7 linked regions of the Homo sapiens genome follow. The protein of the gene in region 4 interacts with the protein of the main gene of each other region in a pairwise test. Each region holds a gene or a part of one and is shown on either strand. Other genes may lie near its edges. The genes, in order: PRPF40A, FLNA, SGTA, WBP1L, CASP6, PIAS4 and CCK.

What was found.
Region 1: the proteins of WBP1L (region 4) and PRPF40A interact in binary tests that used the Homo sapiens proteins (3 or more experiments, as listed by UniProt).
Region 2: the proteins of WBP1L (region 4) and FLNA interact in binary tests that used the Homo sapiens proteins (3 or more experiments, as listed by UniProt).
Region 3: the proteins of WBP1L (region 4) and SGTA interact in binary tests that used the Homo sapiens proteins (3 or more experiments, as listed by UniProt).
Region 5: the proteins of WBP1L (region 4) and CASP6 interact in binary tests that used the Homo sapiens proteins (3 or more experiments, as listed by UniProt).
Region 6: the proteins of WBP1L (region 4) and PIAS4 interact in binary tests that used the Homo sapiens proteins (3 or more experiments, as listed by UniProt).
Region 7: the proteins of WBP1L (region 4) and CCK interact in binary tests that used the Homo sapiens proteins (3 or more experiments, as listed by UniProt).

The regions. Positions count from the first base shown.
Region 1 is NC_000002.12:152,675,962-152,679,461, forward strand, and holds part of PRPF40A (pre-mRNA-processing factor 40 homolog A), read right to left. Parts: coding exon 3,391-3,500; intron 3,149-3,390; coding exon 3,095-3,148; intron 1,515-3,094; coding exon 1,490-1,514; intron 819-1,489; coding exon 444-818; intron 1-443.
Region 2 is NC_000023.11:154,364,635-154,368,134, reverse strand, and holds part of FLNA (filamin-A), read left to right. Parts: intron 1-44; coding exon 45-293; intron 294-396; coding exon 397-494; intron 495-590; coding exon 591-738; intron 739-1,284; coding exon 1,285-1,403; intron 1,404-1,495; coding exon 1,496-1,573; intron 1,574-1,664; coding exon 1,665-1,827; intron 1,828-1,910; coding exon 1,911-2,111; intron 2,112-2,648; coding exon 2,649-2,786; intron 2,787-2,875; coding exon 2,876-2,999; intron 3,000-3,177; coding exon 3,178-3,314; intron 3,315-3,415; coding exon 3,416-3,500. UniProt on the Homo sapiens protein: Promotes orthogonal branching of actin filaments and links actin filaments to membrane glycoproteins. Anchors various transmembrane proteins to the actin cytoskeleton and serves as a scaffold for a wide range of cytoplasmic signaling proteins.
Region 3 is NC_000019.10:2,756,745-2,759,273, forward strand, and holds part of SGTA (small glutamine-rich tetratricopeptide repeat-containing protein alpha), read right to left. Parts: coding exon 2,513-2,529; intron 1,039-2,512; coding exon 949-1,038; intron 714-948; coding exon 599-713; 3' UTR 593-598; intron 1-592. UniProt on the Homo sapiens protein: Co-chaperone that binds misfolded and hydrophobic patches-containing client proteins in the cytosol. Mediates their targeting to the endoplasmic reticulum but also regulates their sorting to the proteasome when targeting fails.
Region 4 is NC_000010.11:102,799,448-102,802,947, reverse strand, and holds part of WBP1L (WW domain binding protein 1-like isoform 1 precursor), read right to left. Parts: intron 1-3,500.
Region 5 is NC_000004.12:109,690,787-109,693,445, forward strand, and holds part of CASP6 (caspase-6 isoform alpha precursor), read right to left. Parts: intron 224-2,659; coding exon 64-223; intron 1-63.
Region 6 is NC_000019.10:4,014,236-4,017,735, forward strand, and holds part of PIAS4 (E3 SUMO-protein ligase PIAS4), read left to right. Parts: intron 1-3,500.
Region 7 is NC_000003.12:42,257,326-42,260,255, reverse strand, and holds the end of CCK (cholecystokinin preproprotein), read left to right. Parts: intron 1-2,024; coding exon 2,025-2,158; 3' UTR 2,159-2,430; downstream 2,431-2,930. UniProt on the Homo sapiens protein: This peptide hormone induces gall bladder contraction and the release of pancreatic enzymes in the gut. Its function in the brain is not clear.

The sequences.
Region 1 (3,500 bases), on a different chromosome or scaffold from region 4:
TTTTTCTACAAAGCTGTATTTTTTTAACTGATTTATAGGAGGTTGAAACCCAAAACACCAATAACCAAAGAAGAAACAATACACCTGTCTTAACTGAAAATACTGATAGTTTGTTAATCATGAATTTTTGCACTGATCTGATGTAAAATATTGCATCAAAATATGATGTATCTTGCTTACTAAGGTTTTTGGCAATCTTTTAGATTTGTGCCCCAACTCCCTAGCCTTGGCTCTACTTGTTAAAATTTCACTGAACTATTTTTCAAGTTTGCTGGCATAACCCTCCAAAATTCGGCCTGAAAACTGATCAACTGTCTTAACGGTGATATTACGATTCTCAAAAAAATTTATTTAAACTATTAATGGCCACTAACTAAACTGGCAATTACTTTTATTTAATGCAATCTGGTACTGATTTTCAGAAGACAAGTTACTAAACTTACTCAGCTACAGTTTCTTGCTTAGATGTTTCTTCTCCAGTATTACTGGATACTTCCACACTTTGATCCTGAATAGCAGGGGTACTAGTAAGTTGTGCTTGTTCCTCAGTTGAAATAGTTACTGTATTCTCATTATCTACAACAGTAGCAACAATGGAAGTAACTTCAGGCTCAGGAACAACTGGAACAGTTCCACTGACAGTATTAGAAGCAGAAGTGGAAGCATTAGCATTGGCTGCAGCTGCTGCTGCTGCTGCCGCTGCTGCTGCTGCAACAACAGCAGCTGCTGCTTCGGCAGCAGCCATGGTGCTCATTGTGGTCGGAATTTCTGTTGTAGGGACTGGGGCTGTTGATGTTGTGGTGCACTCTTCTTGCTTACTATACATTAAAAAAAGAGAACACTGGTCATTTCATTATTGTAATCAGAAAGCTAAATAAAGGTAGCTTTAAAATGGTCATAAAATCAAATAATAAGAAAAATAATTGAAGGAAAAAACGGCAAGAAATGCCAAGCCCATTAAAAAAGATTTTAAAACCACAGAATGTAACTGTACTACTTTAATTCCGTTAACATTCATGGTAATGTATTACAGGCACTCAAAAGTTCAGTAAGCGTTCACATTTATAAAATACCCAATCTATCAGACTGTATTTACACCACGAAAAATGACCTGTATTAGAAAGTTCTCTAAGAACTTTAAATTTTCTCCAGTTTGCCCATTTAGAGGAAACCCTATATAAAGGAAGAGATACACAGATATATTTCGTCCATTCCCTAATCAACTCAAACGGAATTTGGGACTCTTCTGTAACACAGTCTTCTTAATTTGTTAAGGGATACAGTCCAAATTCTAATAATTACTGTATAGCAAAACATCAAATTGAGTAAATATCCCCCTCCCTAATTTTTCCTCAACAAAATGCTACAAGGACATCAAAATATCAAGCCTAACATGTTAATTATTTGTATTATGAAAATTGAGAAAACACAAGGATATCATAGGAGAGACCAAATTTGTAAATAAAAATTGATGTCCAAAATTGCTTACCTGCTTTCTTCAGCTTTGATCATTGCTATTAAAGAGAGAAAAAAAGTCATCTACTAGTTTTAAAATATAATCACTGAAAACAAACTTTAAAAGAAGATAAAGTATCATACAATAGGATTTCATTTACCATCCTAAAAAATAAAAAATCACTTTTACAGAACAAATTCTTGCTCCGAAAGTCTAGTATAGCAAATAAAGAATACAACAAACTTAAATAACAGTAATTACTAGGAAAGCTTATTCCATGCTGCTGCTTTCCCAAAGGCTGCTGCAACAACTCTATGAAAGTATCTGCATAATTCTGGATGAAAACTGTATTTTCTTCAGGGATGAGACTAGTTTGATATATTTTTAAGATACTAAATTCAAAATGGGATCAAATTTATTATAAAATTCCAGCACATATATACTAGCATTGACAAGTAGATAGATAGTTACGCACACCAACTATTTGTAGTAGGGTTATATCAGAAATGAGCTTGATAATTCATAAATGATCAACTGGGAATCTACCTATCTACAATATTATTATTAGCCAATGCTAGTATAGGTAACTTAAACTGAGCTTTAAAGATCTGCACAATTTCATTTTTCATTCCAGTACATTTTCCTTTGGATGTAACAAAAATACCTTTTATTTAACATTACTAGGGAATGAGGTTCTCCACATTAAGTAATAATACAAGCCTAACTCTTTATAAAAAAAATTTTTAAAACTTATCACCCTTTAAAGAAAAACATTTCTGAAAATCTGTTTAGGATGGCTGAAAAAACATACTTACAAAGTTATCATTAATAATATAAATTAACATTTTTCTGATACAATGATGATCTATCTATCTAATGAGGTGGCACAAGGAAAAGGTAAAGGGGCTTAATATGACAGTCTTTTAGGAAATTTTTATTCTCTTTTCCTGCCAGATGTCATTCCACATCACTATCTACTTTATTAGCCCCATTCTCCTACAATCTGCTGCTTCTAGTTTTGTATAATTTATGACACTAGATTCTATTAGAAGTGAGTATAAAAACTAGATTTTCAATCCTTACTTATTATCTCTATTTTAAGTCTTAGGTTTTATATTTAGTATTAAGTATTTCTAGATTTTTAAGGGTTATTCTGATTAGTTCCAATGTTGAAAAATTTTCCCTTTATAAGTAAGGCATGATACTTGGTTTACCTTAATTCTTCCATAAAGAACATATCAAGGCTATTTTGCAACACTGTGCTAAACAAAACTAGCATTAAATATATAGTCTGACAATATACTAACAAAATATAAATGGATACAGATTCAAGGTTCTCCACTATCTATTACCATGAAATGAGTTAAAACACATGTTCTATGTATGCACCACTCATAGTAGGACTTGGAAATTTTGTATATGAACTCCTTGTTCAATTGAATGATAAACGATCTTTTTTCTAAAAACCAAAGTACGACTTTAAAAGCTACAAGCTCATTTATAATATAACCCTTTAATGAAAAGAATTCTTAGAGATTTTTCACTGCAGATTTATCCAATTATGGTTAGTGAATATTAGTGACATACTCTAATAAAAATGTTAAGTATGACAGAAAATGAATTATCAAAGCAGCTCACCATGCAGGTTTGATTTTGTAATAAGACTTCCAGCAACAATGGTATTCTGGTATCCTAGTTTCAGTGGAATCAAATCAAATAAAAATCTATTTAAAATCTACAGAACTGAGATCTAAAGCAACAAGAAAATAAGAGCCCAAAAAACTGTTATACGCCATTTTAAATGTTCTAATCATTTAATTAAAAAAAAAAATAAGGCCTTTGTTTGAACAATCCTATTCTGGAGGAATTGTTTCAAAGTGAATGGCATATATATGTAAAACATATACATTGAAAACTACTTTTCCCCATTTTACCTTCAAGATCCTCAAGTTCTTTAGGTTTGGCCCAGCGAGATTCTTTTGTTTGAGAATTATAATAGTAAGGCTTTCCAGAATCTGATTTGTATTCCTTCCAGGGGCATTTA
Region 2 (3,500 bases), on a different chromosome or scaffold from region 4:
CCCGCACAGCCGTGTGCCCAGCGTGGCCACTCTTCTACTCACAGACAGCAAGGCCATCGTGGACGGGAACCTGAAGCTGATCCTGGGCCTCATCTGGACCCTGATCCTGCACTACTCCATCTCCATGCCCATGTGGGACGAGGAGGAGGATGAGGAGGCCAAGAAGCAGACCCCCAAGCAGAGGCTCCTGGGCTGGATCCAGAACAAGCTGCCGCAGCTGCCCATCACCAACTTCAGCCGGGACTGGCAGAGCGGCCGGGCCCTGGGCGCCCTGGTGGACAGCTGTGCCCCGGGTGAGGGGGCGCAGAGGCAGGAGAGACTGGGCTGGGGTCACCCATGGGTGGCCCTTGAGGGGGTTCTGCGGCCCCCAGACTCACAGCCTCCCTTGCGCCACAGGCCTGTGTCCTGACTGGGACTCTTGGGACGCCAGCAAGCCCGTTACCAATGCGCGAGAGGCCATGCAGCAGGCGGATGACTGGCTGGGCATCCCCCAGGTACACCCGCCCGGCCTGGCTACAGCTGTAGGGGACCGGATCGGCAGTTGGGAGAGACTCGGAGGCCCGATGGCTCCTGTTTTCTGCCTGTGACAGGTGATCACCCCCGAGGAGATTGTGGACCCCAACGTGGACGAGCACTCTGTCATGACCTACCTGTCCCAGTTCCCCAAGGCCAAGCTGAAGCCAGGGGCTCCCTTGCGGCCCAAACTGAACCCGAAGAAAGCCCGTGCCTACGGGCCAGGTGAGGGAGCCCCACCAGGGGTGCACCCGTGTGCCAACGTCTTCCCCATAAGACAGTGTCCCATCTAAACGTGGCGGTCCCCAGGGGTCTTGGGTTACATGGCGGCTAGGTGATCAAGCCACCCAAGAGTCAGACAAGAGTGGGTTTTTGGGACTAGTGAAAACGACAAGAGAATGCTAATAGGTTCCTCCAGTCACAGAAGCCTGCTGCGTGGGGTCCTCGGGGAGGTAGCATCCAGCGGTCTTTATTATAAATGGAGATGAACCAGGTCTCAGTAACAGGGACCTAAAACCCAGTCAAGGCTCACACAGGAACAAGGGCCCAGTGCGGTGAGAATGAATGTTCCAGAAAACAGGCTGGGCCTGTCCCAGCAGCGAGAGCACAGCTGGGTCCCGAGGCCAGGCTCTGTGCCACAGCTCACACTGAATGAACTTGCCCAGTTTGGAATGTGCCTGACTTAGGGGCCAGCAGGGAGGGCTGAAGGGTGGAGGGGTGAGGCTGTGGCCTTAACAGCTGGCCCGTGGTTGGCTCGCCTTCCCCTGCCAGGCATCGAGCCCACAGGCAACATGGTGAAGAAGCGGGCAGAGTTCACTGTGGAGACCAGAAGTGCTGGCCAGGGAGAGGTGCTGGTGTACGTGGAGGACCCGGCCGGACACCAGGAGGAGGTAGGGCCAGCTGCTGGCAGCAGAGGCCCCGCAGCGCTCCCTTTCAGTGGGGCTGCTCTTAGCAAAGGCTCACAGGCTCCTTCCCACTGCAGGCAAAAGTGACCGCCAATAACGACAAGAACCGCACCTTCTCCGTCTGGTACGTCCCCGAGGTGACGGGGACTCATAAGGTGAGCCCTTGGCCAGGGGGGAGGCTTGTGACCTCAGGCAGTGGCTGGAGGCCCCCAGCCCTACCCTCACGGCCCACCCTTCTGGGGACAGGTTACTGTGCTCTTTGCTGGCCAGCACATCGCCAAGAGCCCCTTCGAGGTGTACGTGGATAAGTCACAGGGTGACGCCAGCAAAGTGACAGCCCAAGGTCCCGGCCTGGAGCCCAGTGGCAACATCGCCAACAAGACCACCTACTTTGAGATCTTTACGGCAGGTGAGGGGAGGCTGCCAAGGCCCAGCTGGTCTGTGGGGAGAGCCGCACTGGGGCCTGGGAGCTGAGCAGGTGCCTCGTGGCAGGAGCTGGCACGGGCGAGGTCGAGGTTGTGATCCAGGACCCCATGGGACAGAAGGGCACGGTAGAGCCTCAGCTGGAGGCCCGGGGCGACAGCACATACCGCTGCAGCTACCAGCCCACCATGGAGGGCGTCCACACCGTGCACGTCACGTTTGCCGGCGTGCCCATCCCTCGCAGCCCCTACACTGTCACTGTTGGCCAAGGTAGGCCCGGCCCTGACTGCCCTCTGCTGTGGCACTGCAGTCTGGGCCTCCCACAGGAGGGGGACCCCCTGGGCCAGTCCCGCTGCAGCCCGCCCCGGGGCCCCTACTCTTTGAGCTTCTACTGTCTGGGCACATGCTGTTTTTCCTCCCCTGCTGGGGCCCTTCCTCCTCTCCTCTCCTCGCCCCTCTCCATCTCTCTCCTCACGCTTTCACCTTCGGAAGAGCTCGCTCCAGCTGTCTAGAAACCTGCTGCTCTCTGCTCTGCCCACAGGGTCAACGGTACTTGGATCTGTCTTCTTCTTGGAAGGGGGAGGGTGGGGGGCTCTGGGCTGGTGTGGAGCAGGTGGGAGGAGGCCTGCCATGTCCTGGCCCAGGCCACAGTTCCTGGGGTCACAGTCCCTTCCAGTTCTGTCTTGCATGTCCCCCTCCAGCCAAGCTCTGAGGGACCCACCAATCCTGACAGCCCGGCCCTGTGGGAGGCAAGGGAGGGGTCGCCCAGCCGAGCTGCTGGTGCTCAGCTGGCCCCTCTGCCTGCAGCCTGTAACCCGAGTGCCTGCCGGGCGGTTGGCCGGGGCCTCCAGCCCAAGGGTGTGCGGGTGAAGGAGACAGCTGACTTCAAGGTGTACACAAAGGGCGCTGGCAGTGGGGAGCTGAAGGTCACCGTGAAGGGCCCCAGTAAGTTGGCCTGGAGCCAGGCCAGGATGGGTGGCGGCAGCCCCCGGGTTCACTGCTGGGCAGGCCTGAGGCCCTCCTTGTCTTGGCAGAGGGAGAGGAGCGCGTGAAGCAGAAGGACCTGGGGGATGGCGTGTATGGCTTCGAGTATTACCCCATGGTCCCTGGAACCTATATCGTCACCATCACGTGGGGTGGTCAGAACATCGGGCGCAGGTGAGGCCCCCAGGCATCCCTCTCCCAGCTCTGCACACTCTGCCTCTTCTCTTCCTTCTGCCTCCCCACCTGATGATGAGGGGCCACATGGGCTCTTCCTGCCTGGCCGCCACAGTGGGGCCCACGCTGGCTCATGTGGTGATCCTCGGTGTTCCCTGTGTGGCTCTCGCATTTGCAGTCCCTTCGAAGTGAAGGTGGGCACCGAGTGTGGCAATCAGAAGGTACGGGCCTGGGGCCCTGGGCTGGAGGGCGGCGTCGTTGGCAAGTCAGCAGACTTTGTGGTGGAGGCTATCGGGGACGACGTGGGCACGCTGGGTAAGTTGGAGGCTGCAGCATGGGCACCTGGGGACAGACGATGGCAAGGACGGCCCACCCTGAGGCTCCAGGGCACTGAGGGGACTGGTGGCTGTTGTCAGGCTTCTCGGTGGAAGGGCCATCGCAGGCTAAGATCGAATGTGACGACAAGGGCGACGGCTCCTGTGATGTGCGCTACTGGCCGCA
Region 3 (2,529 bases), on a different chromosome or scaffold from region 4:
GGGCCCCTGGGGAAGGAAACCAAGCCAGCCACGGGCCCCTGGAACCCATGGGGGACACTGAGTGTATTTTTAAACAACTGTAAGTGCAACACCTGCTCACAGTGAGAAAAGGACAAAAAATCCCTCACAAAATGCAGGCAGAACGCTCGGGCGCAGTCAAAGGCAGGTACCCGGCTTGTCCTTTCCACCACTCGATGACCTCGCCCCCACCCCCGAGGTGGCAGCCCCGACACTGCAGAAACAAAGAGCTTCTGCAGGCGGCCTTAGGCAGGGGGGACCCCAGACACCAGCCCTTCCAGGGAGCTGTGGCTCTCCCCTAATCTCCACCCAGCGCCGATCCACAGATGGGAAAGGAGTGGGGAGCAGGACTTGGTGGCCACCTGGAAAGGGGCCCAATGCCCAGAGATGCCCCCACCTGCCTGGGCGGTTCAGGGTGATCTTCTGAGCTGGATGCACCCAGGACTCGCTGTCCAGTGTCCAGACAGGCTCCACAGCCCCCGGGCGTCACTCCTGCTGGCTGCCCTCACTGCCAGGCACTCACGTGGTGTCACTCCTGCTGGCCACCCCCCAGCCCCCGGCCCCATGCACTCACGCAGCGTCACTCCTGCTGGTCGTCGTTGCTGGCGCTGGGCGTCCGACTCCGGATCTGGCTCCTGAGCTGCTCTATCAACTCTGGGTTCTGCTGCTGCATCTGCTGGGCAAACTGCTGGCCCCTGCGGGGAAGGGCACATGGGGCTCAGCCAGGGCCAGGAGGCTGCCTGCTGCCTCCGTCCATCCCCAGCTGACCCCTCGGGCCCTCCACCCCAAAGACAGGCCTGACCCCTCGCTGGAGGACGCTGGGCCCTTCGGAGCAGGGGACGCAGCACTTTCGCTCTCCTCCTTCCCTTCCGCCTGCGAGCCCTGCCCGCCGCCCACGTCCTCCGTCCTCTTGGAAGCAGTTCCACTCACGCCTGGATGAGGCTGGCCAGGTCGTTCTGCGAGGGGCTGGTGCCGGGAGTTCCCAAGGGGTTGTTGCCACCCGAAATCATGCCGGACATGCTGCAGGAGAGAGCGCGTGACTCGCAGCCGGGACAGCCTGACCGCCACCCCCACTGCAGGCCCTCGCAGTGGCCCGGGAGAGAATCCCTCTCAGCCCTTCACCTTCCCCTGCAGGAGAGGATTCTCTCTCACCACCTGGTGGGCCTCCAGGGCCCAAACCCACCCTGTGACTTTCACCTGCTTTCCCAGAACACCCCTCTTTCTTTGGCCTAAAGAGCGTAGTTCTCAGCCAGGGGGTGATCCTGCCCCCAGAGGACCCCTGCAATGGCAGCGGACATTTGCAACAGCCATGATTGGGTTACGCCAAGACAGGGGCAGGGGGTGCTCCTGGCATGGAGTGGATGGAGGCTAGAGACAGTGCTCAGCACCCTGCAGTGCCCAGGACGGCCCTGCTCCAGAAACTGGTCCAGCTCAAATGGCCACGGTGCTGTGGCTGGGAAACCATGCTTTAAGATTTGACCGTGGGCCAGCCGCGGTGGCTCACACCTGTCATCCCTGCACTTTGGGAGGCTGAGGCGGGTGGATCACCTGAGGTCAGGAGTTCAAGACCAGCCTGGCCAACATGGTGAAACCCCATCTCTACTAAAAATGCAAAAATCAGCCGGGCATGGTGGTGGATGCCTGTAATTCCAGCTACTTGGGAAGACCCACTTGATCCCGGGAGGCAGAGGTTGCAGTGAGCCAAGATTCTGCCACTGCACTCCAGCCTGGGTGACAGAGCAAGATTCTGTCTCAAAAAAAAAAAAAGGAGAAAGAAAAAAAGATTTCACCATGAAAACAGGTGAGCAGCTCCCCAGTGCGCACAGCGCTTACTGGGGAGTGACCCTATGAGCCAGCGAGTGCACTCAGAAGTTTATATCCAAGAGAAACGAAAACAGGATTCACACAGACGATTGCACACCCGTGCTCAAGCAGCACCGTTCACAACAGACAAAAGGTAGAAACAGCCCAAATGTCCATGGATAGATGTGTGGATCAGCACAGCGTGGTCCCTCCACACTGGAATATTACTCAGCCATGAAAAGGAGCGAGGCCCTGACCCAGGCCCCAGCACACATGCACCTTGAGGACGTCACGCTCAGTGAGAGACGCCAGACACCAAAGTTCACGCAGTGTGTGATCCCATTTCTACGAAATGTCCAGGACAGGCCCATCCACAGAGACAGGAAGGGGATGCGTGGTTGTCAGGGGATAGGAGAGGGGTTGGGGAGTGACAGCTGAGGGGGAAGGGGCTTCTTTCGGAGGTGATGAAGATGGGTTGGTGCTCAATGGTGGTGACAGTTGCATGACAGTGTGATGGTGGTGACAGTTGCATGACAGTGTGATAGTGGTGACAGTTGCATGACAGTGTGAAAGTCCTTAATGCCATTAAGTTGCACACTTTAAAGTGGTTAGTTTTATGTTAAGTGAATTTACCCACAATAAAAGGAAATTTAACCACAACAAGACCCGAAGAAACCCGGTTGTCACTTACAGCTGCTGAATCTGGGG
Region 4 (3,500 bases):
AGTATACGCAGAACTATGCCTGATGTATGGTAAGTTCTTAGTGTGTTTATTGTTGTTGTTACAGGCTTAACCATAGATGGGCAGGGTTTCCTTTAAAATTTCCTTTCAATTTCCCTTTTAACCCCCAAAAAGTATTCCATAAAGAAACACAGGGCCCAGTGTGGTGGCTCATGCCTGTAATCCCAGCACTTTGGGAGGCTGAGGCAGGTGGATCACTTGAGGTCAGAATTTGGAGACCAGCCTGGCCAACATGGTGAAACCCCATCTCTACTAAAAATACAAAAATTAGCTGGGCATGCTGGCGCACACCTGTAATTCCAGCTATTTGGGAGGCTGAGGTGGGAGAATCGCTTGGACCTGGGAAGCGAGATCATGCCACTGCACTTCAGCCTGGGCGAGGGAGTGAGACGCTGTCTCAAGAAAGAAAAGGAAAAAAGAAACACAGGTTAGGAACAAGTCCAAAGTCTGCTTTTAGGTTCTGTTCTTGGCACTGGAAATTCAATCAACTCCTATTTACTGAGCTCTTGCTAACAATGGGTATCTTAAGACAAACTAAAAACAAAACAAAAAAAAACGGCAGGTAAAAAACGAAGCTTGGGCAACATGGCGAAACCTTATCTCTACAAAAAAATACAAAAATTAGATGGGCATGGTGGCACATACTCATAGTCCCAGCTACTTAAGTGGCTGAGGCAGGAGGATCCCTTGAGTCCAGGAGGTTAAGGCTGCAGTGACCAAAGATCATACCACTACACTCCAGCCTGGGTGATAGAGTGAAACCTTGTCTCACACACACAAAAAGAGGAAGGAAGGAAGGAAGGAAGGAAGGAAGGAGAAGGTGGAAGGAGGAGGGGGAAGGGGGAAAGGGAAAGGCTGGGGGAAGGGTAGGGGAGGGTGGAGGAAGGGGAGGGGAGGGTGGGGGGAAGGGTGGGAAGGTGGGGGAGGGGTGGCAGGGTGGGGGAAGGGTGGGGGTGGGGGGAAGGGTAGGGAAGGGTGGGAGGGAGGGGGGAGGAAAAGTGGGGAGGGAGGGGAGAGGAAGAGTGGAGAGGGAGGGGAGAGAGGAGGAGGGAGATGGGAGGGAGGGAAAGGAAAGAGAGAGAGAAAGAAAAAAAGAGAGAGAATAAAAAATGAAAAACGAGTTGGGCAGCACTGACAGGATTTGCTAATAGCCTGTTTTGTGTCACTTCAGGGAAATTCCACTGTCCAGAAACATACCCCTCTCCCTCCTAAAGCCCAAACCAGGGGAAACTGATGCCTGGGTGAAATTCTCCCAAATGATCTCAAGGGCAGAAATTCCCAACTTTGATCTCTCCCTGGAAAATGTAGCTTGCTGAGTGGAGAGAGCCCCAGGATGAGAACAGGGAGGAGTGGCTTTGGGGTTTGGGCCAATGCACATCCTATCCCCTCCCCGCTGGATTACCTTCTGAAGGTAAGAATTCTGTCTCTCCAGTTTCCAGCCCAGAGGAGGTCACAGCATCAACTAGGAACTTGTTACAATTGCACATTCTCAGGTTTTTAAATTCTCAGTTTTGAATCAAAAGCTCTGGGAGTAGGGCCCAGAAGTGTGTGTTTTCGGTAGCCCTTCAGGAAATTCTGATGCCTGCTAAAGTTCAAGAGCACTGGAATAAGGGTTTGCTGAATGAATAACTGATGGAATGATGAATTAAAGTACAGGTGCCGTAAAAATGCATGGAGATAATACTAACAACGATCAGGTCCTTAATAGCCTCAACTACTGCCCCTATTAAACAGGATCTGCCGTTCTCAACACATGCAGGCCCAATAACTGGTTTGGGTTATGAAACATTGAAAAGACATGTGGGAAAGGTTGCCGGCCAGAGCTCAGGTCTATGTGTGCTTGTGTGTCTGTGTAAACCGTGTGTGTGTGTAAGTATGTGTGTGAGAATTGAGAATTTTCCTCAGCACACAGGAAAATGCAGTTTAGTAGAGGTAAAGGGTGGGTAGAAATGGCATTTTTTCCCGGAGGCCTTTCCTGTAGGCAACTATAGTTAAGGAGTTGCCCTGTCTGATGAAAACTCTGCCAAAGGATTTCCTGGCTGAGGAATTTTCTTTCCAAAGGAAGGTGGGAAGGAAATCAGCCCAAAGCCCGTGACTTTCACACTTCAGGCAAAGTTGAGAGGCAGTTAGAGGGAACAGGGTTGAAAGCAACAAAAAGTGCCATTTTGATGAGAACTTCAGGTGTTTGTTCCAACATCAACCTCCCTCCCATACACACCAGGCAGAAGCCATGACCTCAATAAAGAGGGAGATCGGAGGACTTCCTGAGAAGGGCGTTTTGCTTTTATGTCTCCCATGCCTCCAGAACGTGGAAAACACATGCCAGCTCATTTAACGGGGCACCTTTTCTCTCCGTCTAGACACTGCTCTCTGCTGGGCCTCCTTTCCTAAACGCCCGTAGCTAGAGAGACACTTAGCCGTTCATGCAGCTCTTTCTCTGACTTTCTTTAAGCCCTTGGGGTGAGGCACCTGCTTTCCCAGACTACCTCCTTGCCCTCTGGGTCTCCCTGTCCCCACCACTCCACCCCCCTGCCCTGGCTTTGGTGACCCAATTCAGGTGGCTCCTGAGTCGGCTCTGCCAAAAGCCCAGGAGGCTCTGTCAATCTGAGACGGGGCCATGAGCAACTTCGTTCCTTTTCACAACTGATGCCGCCTGGCCAGGACCCAGAAAAACAAACTACAGCTCTGTGGCTTTTTGGCAGCCCAGCTTCAACTTTTGTTTTAACAAAGGGTGGGAAGGAGAATTTGAACCCTGTGGTTATCTGCATTTTAAAACATTTAAACAGAGTCTGTCTACCTGCTTGGCACTGTGTGTCCTCTAGTAAGTTTCTCAGCCCCACCCCTTCTAAAATAGCAACAATGACTGTGCCCTCCTTCACTGCTGCTTATATATCTGCAGGTCTGGTGGGGACATCTTGAGCCTTGTGCTCTCCTGCACTGGACTGCTCCTGGAATTCCTCAGAAAGGCAGATGAGCCCGTCCTCAGTCCTCAAAAGGGAAAAGCGAGGGTGAGGGAGAGGTCTTGTTTGGAGGAACCACTCCTGTTGGCTACAAATACAACTGCATTTCAGATGGACAGACCTCCCAGCCAAGAGTCTAATTTCCTTTCTGGACCAAACAATAGTCCTTCTGGCTGCTTTCTTGCCATATCACTGACACAGGGGTTGATGGGGGGGATGAGAAAGGGGAAAGGCGCAGATAGGATGGTGGGGGCAAGGTCATGGTTTGACAAACCCGAAGTCTGTTTCCAAATGGAGGCAGTGATGAGGGCTTAGAATCATCTGGGGAAACCGCCTGCAGTCTCCTTTCTCAAGAGACAATTGTAAGAACTACGGCAATGTCAGTCACCTGGGGCCTCGCTGTCCTAAGCACCACCCCCCCAACACCCTCTCATTCTTTGTCCAGCATCCTACACTGTCTCGTCTGAGTTCCAGGAAGGTCAGAGTACAAAGAGTGTCAGTTGAAGCAACCTTGGGTCACTC
Region 5 (2,659 bases), on a different chromosome or scaffold from region 4:
GGTGAAACTTACAGGACCTTAGCCAAGAGAGGCAATTATATGTTTGTTTTAAACACCACACACCTTCTGCAACAGAGTAACACATGAGGAAGTCAGCTCCAGCAGGCAGCGTGTAAACGGAGGCTGCATCCACCTCAGTTATGTTGGTGTCCAACTTCTCTGTCTGATTATCTACTACATCCAAAGGAATGACTGGCACATCGTGCTGGTTTCCCCGACATGCCTACAAGACAAGGAGGAAAAACCCACCTCTTTGCCTACTGTTTCCTTCCCAGTGCTTAATGTGTGCAGTGAATGTGTAAGCCAGTACCCCTTCATTACAACAGAAACCACATTCTGAGCAGTTCAGAAGCAATACATTCAGGTTTGGAGGGCACAAAAGCCAACAAAGTTGTTTCCTTACTTAGGCTTTCTTTTAGTTAATGTTTTAAGAAAAAATTGGCATCCCCAAGTATACATCAAATTATGTTGGTAGAAGGGTATACTGTAGAGGAAAAAGCTTGTGGTTTTAAAATTTCTTACAGATTAACCACACCCAGGGCACACGGTGTTACCTTCCCTTTTGAAAGCTATAGTATTGACCTAAGTGTTTCTGTTTAGGCAGGCAGTGTATTTCCAGATTGACTTTTGCTTGCCTGGCTGCTGCTATAAATTGTTAGGAGTTAAAATGACATCCAGCCTGACCTGAGGAGATACCTACTAATGCACCATCTTCCTTGTGTGCCCATTAAAAAGTGAGGTCTCAAATTTTTACCCACTAATTCTGACTCACTCAGAATTTACATTAAATTTAGACTCATAATTAACATTAAATTCTGACTCACTCAGAGGCTAACATTAAACTCTTCTCATAAGTGACTTTTACAAGCTGAATTGTGTTCCCCAAAAATTCATATGTTGAAGTCCTAGCCCCAATACCTCAACTCTGACTGTATTGGAAGACAGGGCCTTTAGAGGTGATTAAGGAAAATGAGGTCATACGGGTGAAACCAAATCCAACATGACTAGTGTCTTCATAAGAAGAAATTGGGACACAGACATGCACAGAAGAAAGACCATATGAAGGCACAGGGACAAGATGGCCACCTACAAGCCAAAAAGGGAGGCCTCAGAAGAAACCAATCCTCCCCACACGTTCATCTGAGACTTCCAGCTCCAGGACTGTGACGATAAATTCCTGCTGTTTAAACCACACAGTCTGTGGTACTTTGTTATGGTCACCCTATACACGAATACAGCCAGCCAATAAGATTCTGTTGTAGCATTATAAATGCATCAATCAGTTCTGAAATGGTTAAAGAATTATGAGCATCAAAAGAAAGTCCTGAATGATTTCAAATCATAAAATAAATAGAAAATCCCTACTATCCCGTTTTTATAGGCAGATTTTAATCTTCGTATCAGCAGGCTTATTTTCAGGCCTTTTTTCTACTGTCCTTCCTAAATATAACAGAACACCTTTAACCTAATGACATCACCTGCCCAGTCAACTGCAATAAGAGTAAGAGCGAGCCTTTACTGAGGGCGTGCTGTATGCCAGGCACTGTTCTAAGTGGTTTGCATTCATTAAATCAGTCAGGTGATTTTGCCCACACAACCACCCCATGAGGCAGGTGCTCTTTTTACCAAGAATCTAAGGCATAGAGAGAGAAAGTAACTTGGAAAACGATTTCATTTGTGGCTTTCTTCCCACAGTAGCTCATTAGTTATTTCCAATTCTCTTGTGTTTGACAGTGTTGGCCACTCCCCTTTTCACAAAACAATCATGTCATTATTTGTTTCTTGTTTCTCTCCTGGTGTCCATCCTCCTCAGTATCTTCCCTCTTCAGCCCATTCCTCATGGGTGCCCCTCGGTTTTGTTTTATGCTCCTTTTTCAGGCTGTATTCAACACGAGTAAACTCATCTAATCCCATGGCTTCCACGACCACCTCCTGATTTATTTCTCCAGCCGAGGCCACCTGTCTTAGGTTCTACACCTGTATGACCAATTCCATGTCCCACAGACATTCCAATGCAGTTGTCCAAACCAGAAACGAGGCAGTCATTCTTCACTTACAGCCACTTCCTCACCCCAAAACAAGGCTTTATGGTAGGATGCGAAATGCAGTTTCATGTTTGATACGGTTTGAACGTCTGTCCCCTCCAAATCTCATGTTAAAATGTGGTTCCCAGTGTGGGAGGTGAAGCCTGGTGGAAGGTGACTGGATCATCGGGGAGGGTCTCTCATGAATGGTTTAGCATCATCCTCTTGGTGTAAGTGAGCTCCCACTCAGTTCACATGAAATCTGGTTACTTAAGAGAGTCTGGGACCTCTCCCTTGGCACTCTCTTGCTCCCACTCCCAACAAGTCATATGCTGGCTCTCTGTCACCTTCCACCATAATTGTAAGCTTCCTAAGGCCTCACCAGAAGCAGATGCCAGCACCATGCTTCCTGTACAGCCTGCAGAACTGTAGGCCAATCAAATCTCTCTTCCTTATAAATTACCCAGTCTCAGGTCTTTATAGCAATGCAAGAATAGACTAACATAATGTTATTTCATGTCCTCCATGCTATTCATGGAAATACAGAATTGTGACACTGGCATGTCAGGTTTCTCTTTTGTAGTTCAAAATCTTTGGCCGGGCACAGTGGCTCACGCCTGTAATCCCAACACTCT
Region 6 (3,500 bases), on a different chromosome or scaffold from region 4:
CTGAGCAGGAACTGTGTGTCAGGACCTCATAGCCCACAGCAGTGTGGACAGGCCCCTGGTGCCTCCCCAGCAGCCGTGGCCATTCAGGCTGCAGGTGGGCATTGAGCCCAGTCTCTGCCTCAGCCATAGCCCTGAGCTCAGGGCCAGGGAGGCCTCCGCAGCCCCAGCCCCCAGGGCAGAGAGAGTGTGCAGCCTCTGGGACTCCCAGATAGGGAGCGGAACGTCCTGGGCCTTTGCGGACCTGTGCCTTGAGGCGCTCAGATTTCACCAAGTCCTCTGTGTGCCTGGAGGTCTCTCCGTCTCTTCTTCCTGCCTCCCCTCCCCTGCCCCCACTCTTTCCTTCGCACAGTAAACATCGGAGCGCCTGCTGGGTGGGTGCGTGATGGGCACCAGGCGTGGGCACGCAGCAGGGAACAGGACCAAGGCCACGAGGTTCAGAACCCTGTGCATGCCCCCTCCCACCCTGCTGACCCAGCAACCTGCCTGGCCCCTGCTGTGGCCTGAGGGCCCTTCTCTGGCACGCTTCAGTCCATTGGGTGCCAGCTGGCCCCCGCTCCCCTGCCCAGGGAGGCAGCGTTGATGGGGGTAGGGGGAAGGGGAACTGGCTGCTTTTCCCCTCCCATCTGCAGCCCTGGGACTTAGTGAGGTTAGGCTGGAGGGGCTGTGCTTCCAGGTGAGGATGGAGGAAGTGGAGGAGGGAGGAAGGTGCTGTCGGTGGTTCCTGCGGCAGCCGAGGCTCCTCCCTCCAGCCTGAGGCTCCGCCTTCCAAGTGAGGCTCCGCCTCCACCTTTTTTCTCTTGCAGGAGGTGTCTAGCAGCAGCCTCCTGGGGAGCAGGTTGGCCCAGTGGCACCTGTCCTGGGGGACTCAGGGTCTTGGCCTGAGTTCCATCGGACTGACTTTCCCAGCCTTTGCTCTCTCATGAGGGAAGCTGTTCCCCCTGCCAGGTTCTTGGGCAGAGCTGGCTGTCTCTGAAGGTTGGGCCTTGGGAAGGACCTGCATCACAGGGAGGCTGGGCTTTCCTGGGAGCGGCAGGGCAGGCTTGGTCCAGGGCGGGGGACGGGGCTGACCAGCTTCCTTCCTGCACGGGGACCAGTAGCTCCGTCCCACAATACATCGCTGTGCCCTGAGCCACCAGGGACCCCGGTCACCTGATCTCCGGGAGAGCCTGCTCCCCTGTCTACACCAGTGTGCCTGTGCTGGCGGCTCAGAACAAAGAGGCCATCCCCACCCTGCCTCTCTCTCCCACTGGCTCTCTCTCCATCTCAGGCCGCCAGGTGAACCTCCTTTCCTGGATTCCGTGCTCTTGGGGGACTCCCTGGGGGCCACCTCGGTCCTCAGAAGTTTCCTGGAGCATAGCCCCTGGCCCCGAAGCAGTGGTCCCCATGGTTTTAGGACCTGAGATGCCATCTGTCCGCCCTGACCCTGGGCTGTGTCCCTCCCCAGGGTGCACTCTGTGGTGCTGGCCTTGCCCGGGGGCCGCCTCCGGAGGACCCAGTTCCACCGGCTTCTCCCTCACTCCCTCCTCTGGCTGTGACCCACCGTCCAGCGTGAGGCCCACCGCTCTGGTCTGTTTCCCCGGAATAGCCGCCGGCCGGCTCCAGGATGGAGACCGCGCCAGGCGGACAGGAGCCATAAATCACGCGGTGCGGAATGCTGGGCTGGGGGAGGGGGTGACAGAGCCACAGAGCAGGCTGCAGGGGCCTCAGGCTGTAGGTGATCGGCTCCAGTGGGAGGTGCCGTGTGTGGGGACGGGGCTGGCACCCAGAACAGTGCGGAGAACGGCCCAAGGTCGCACAGCGGCCTGCCTTCCCTCCTCCCGAGCCGACTGGCTCCTGCTCCTGAGCAGAGGCTCTGGCCTGGACCTCTGCAGGCTGGGAACCCTGTCCTGCCTGTCGGCAAGGAAGCCGGCGCCACCCCTTTCCAGCCTGCGCCACCTGGGGAGTCCGGCTAGGGAGCCTGACCCTCCTGTCAGGGTACTTGGGAAGAGAGGCTGTCAGGAAATGTGGGGCAGAAGGAAGGATACATGCTGGCCGGGCACAGAGCTGCTCCTCCAGGGTCTTGGCCCGCAGCGGGCACCCCGAGGAATCTGCCTGCCCACCCGCCTGCTGTGCAGAGTGGAGCCCCTGTCACCACGACTCCAGATGCCCCCAGAGGCAGATAGCCCTGGTACCAGCCAAGAGCCGCCGGTCTGGCATGTGCTGTGCTGTGTGTAGGCACCTGTGCCCTTCAGCCTCTGAAGCCCTTGGGCCAGCATTGCCCAGGCCACAGCAAGGTAGCGTGGTCCCTGCTCAGGTGCAGCACAGAAGTGCCAGGTGATAAGTCTCATGGCACACGGAGGGCTTTCAGGGGCAGCTGTCAGTAGCAGGAGCCATTTACTCTACATTTGTGAGGAGGTAGCAGTCAGGAAGGCCTCCTGGAGGCAGCAGCGTTTCAGTCCAGACCCGAGGGTGACTCTCAAGAAGCCAGGCAGAGAGGAGGGGGCAGGGGAGCGTATTCCAGGCAGAGGGCAGTGAGGGCAGAGGCCGATGGCCAGAGAGGGCTCATTCATGGGGCTGAATGGAGTTCATTGTGGCCAGAACATGGTGCGCCCAGGAGGAGGGACGCAGTAGCCTGGGCGCGGGCGGCAGAGGCTGGAACCCGAGAATGGTGGGCCCGGGGAAGGCTGGGGGCTACCCTGCTTGCCCCGAGGGCTTCAGCGCCCCTGAGGTTCTGGTATGATTTTTGGGGTCAGTGAGGAAACTGAAGTGCAGGAGGCAAGTGGCCGTCTGCCTTCCACAGCCAGGCCTGCTGCCCGCCCAGGCCCACCATCTGTCCGTCTGCACACTGGGGGCCTGGATGGGCACGGAGCGTCCTGTGTCACTGTCCCACATGTGGGGTAGTCTGACCCACTCAGCCCGCTGGCACTTCCCATACCTGTGGTTGGGGAACAGGGGGACTCCGCCAGCTCTGCCCCAGGTCTTGGCCTTCAGGTTGAAGAGGAGGGATGGGCCCACTGCTACCAGATGGGGGGCTGCCAGCAGCCACCCCCATGTCCCGCTAGTCCTTCTCCCATCCCCTGTGGCCCCCTGCCCTGCCCAGCCCAGCTCCCCAACCTGCCCGCTGGCTGCAGCCTCCTGCTCTGCTTCCTGCCCACTGGTCCCCCTCCCATGGCAGCCTGTGAATGTTTTCACTGATGGGTAGAGTGGTCGGCATCACCCCTGTGCCTAGCCAGGGGCACCTGTTCCCCGCCCCTCCAGGACAGTGCCCCCTGTGTCCCTCATACCTGACTGTGCTGCCTCTACTCTTGATCTGGGGGACCTGGGTTGGGGAATCAGTGCTGGTAGCTCTTAGCTGGACAGGGTGGGTCCGGGAGTTAGAGAACTTGTATGTGCCGGGGAGGGGACAGCCTGGGGAGGGGGCCAGCACATGGGCCAGCTGGAGGGGGAATGGTCCCATCCGATCAGCTTTTTTTTTTTTTTTTTTTGAGATGGAGTCTGACTGTCGCCCGTGCTGGAGTGCA
Region 7 (2,930 bases), on a different chromosome or scaffold from region 4:
TGATGAACAATTAAATAGCAGGGGCTATTTTTCTTCTACGTAGGCTGAGGATATCTGCAAAAAGACCTGAAATGTGCTGAATTGACTGTTGGTTCCAAAACTGGGAAGGGTTGGGGTTGGGGAGAGAAAGGGTGGGGACGTTGTTCTGTGTTGTTTCTGTTTTTAATTAAACTTGCTTAATTTCATTACCCAGGGTAACTGCCTTTGCATTTTCATTTATCAACACATAAGCCATAGTCTGACTCTACTCAGCCTATGGGTAGGAGCTGGCAAGGGCAGCCTCATGCAGAAGGGATATAGACCAGCATGACAGGAGGTGGGGATACAGTGGCCCCCAACACAGTGGGAGTCATTGAGTGGTCCTCCACTCCTCTACCCTTGATTTGGCCTGGGCTTTGTCCATTGAAGTCCCTGAAGGGCCTTTCTTAAGACTGAGCTTGCACAGGAGAAGGTGTTCTGCTGATTTCATACCCCAGGAGGCTTCTGTCTATGAACTTTGAGCTAGGACTGTCTCATGTCTCCAAATAAACTGCCTCTTCATGTCCCTGCTCACTCAGTGTGAGCTCTACAAAAGGATCACACTGTTCCTGAAGACTTAACTTCCATCCCAATGGGACAATTTCAGGTTCAGTTATTGCATTTTGGTCAAAATTGCTGATTTAAATCACCTTTGTTATCACCTCTCTCCCCCCCTTCTTTGAGTCTTACTGAGGTGCCAAGATTTAATCCGACAGTCTTTTTCTGAATATCATTTTTAATTGATATTGATTTATCATTAAAAATAAAATGATCATCAACTCAAAACACTTACTGATAAATGACAAAAGCTTTCTGAATATAACTTTCAAATTCATATTTTTAAAAGAGTATTTATGTAGCAAAGGAGCTTTATTTATCTATTTTTTATTATACTTTAAGTTCTGGGGTACATGTGCAGAACATGCAGGTTTGTTACATAGGTATACACATGCCATGGTGGTTTGCTGCACCCATCAACCAGTCATCTACATTAGGTATTTCCCCTAATGCTATCCCTCCCCTAACCCCCACCCCCCGATAGGCCCTGGTGTGTGATGTTCCCCTCCCTGTGTCCATGTATTCTCATTGTTCAACTTCCACTTATGAGTGAGAACATGCGGTGTTTGGTCTTCTGTTCCTGTGTTAGTTTGCTGAGAATGATGGTTTCCAGCTTCATCCATGTCCCTGCAAAGGACATGAACGCATCCTTTTTATGGCTGCATAGTACTCCATGGTGTAAATGTGCCACATTTTCTTTATCCAGTCTATCATTGATGGGCATTTAGATTGGTTCCAAGTCTTTGCTATTGTGAATAGTGCTGCAGTAAACGTACATGTGCATGTGTCTTTATAGCAGAATGGTTTATAATCCTTTGGGTATATACCCAGTAATGGGATTGCTGGGTCATATGGTATTTCTGGTTCTAGATCCTTGAGGGATTGCCACACTGTCTTCCACAATGGTTGAACTAATTTACACTCCCACCAACGATTTTTTTTTAACCATTCCAACATCAAGATATTATAATTGTGCCACCTTAATAACAAGAGCTCTCCAGGAGTCAGGAATGTTGATGGATATTAAGGGATGAATTTAGGAACAATTAAGTACTGGAAAAATCTTTGGTTGGTTTCTGCTGATGCCATCTACAAAAGGAAAACACCCATCTACCAAAAGAAAGCAAACGGTAGGGAGACTAAGGAAAATCTAGGCAAGTCCCCAGACTGCAAGGCTAGAGAAAATGAATCCACCTAAATACTTGCAGAACGCAAAGCACACCCCTAACTTGTAAATATATTGTCCTCTCTCCAGTTACACAGACATTGGTCCTTCTCCTCTCTCAGATTTTGGTCCATCAGTTCCACTACTTTGATAGCTCTTTGATACCTTTAAGGTGGTGTCTGTTATATTGCGTCTGGCTTTTTCCATTGCTCTCCTTCCCAAATTGAACTAGAGATGCTTTTAGATGCAATGTCCCTGTTTCCTTCCTCCCTGCTCCTTGTAGCTCCTTCTGGACGAATGTCCATCGTTAAGAACCTGCAGAACCTGGACCCCAGCCACAGGATAAGTGACCGGGACTACATGGGCTGGATGGATTTTGGCCGTCGCAGTGCCGAGGAGTATGAGTACCCCTCCTAGAGGACCCAGCCGCCATCAGCCCAACGGGAAGCAACCTCCCAACCCAGAGGAGGCAGAATAAGAAAACAATCACACTCATAACTCATTGTCTGTGGAGTTTGACATTGTATGTATCTATTTATTAAGTTCTCAATGTGAAAAATGTGTCTGTAAGATTGTCCAGTGCAACCACACACCTCACCAGAATTGTGCAAATGGAAGACAAAATGTTTTCTTCATCTGTGACTCCTGGTCTGAAAATGTTGTTATGCTATTAAAGTGATTTCATTCTGCCCTGTCGTTCCCTGCGTCTACTGAGGGCAAAGGGCTCCATTTGGTCCTCAGAACATGCAAGGAGGGAAGCCTGATAGATGCTACACTGGGACAAATCCTTGTAGTAGATGTCCCCAGAAAGGGCTTGGGAAATGCAGCTCAGACTTGGAGCTAACTTTGCTACAGGCCAGGTGGACAGTGAAAGGGCCATCTGTGGGCAACTCCAGAGCCCAGCCCTGGCCACCCTGATCCCCGATCTTATTTACCAATCCTACTCCCATCAGGGTTTCCTTGGGGTTCTCTTGGCCTTTAAACAAGTTACAGGCAGTAACTGGCCATGGTTTTGCATACATTTGATCACTCCATGGCTCTGTGGCACAGAAGTTATCATCCTTTCTTTACAGATGAGGAAACAGGCTCTGAAGAGTGAAAGTGACTGCCCCTTATGCCCCAGCTAAGGAGATTCACAGACTGGAGGGCTTAATGTTCCTAGGCTATCGGGACCTTCATCACTCTAGCA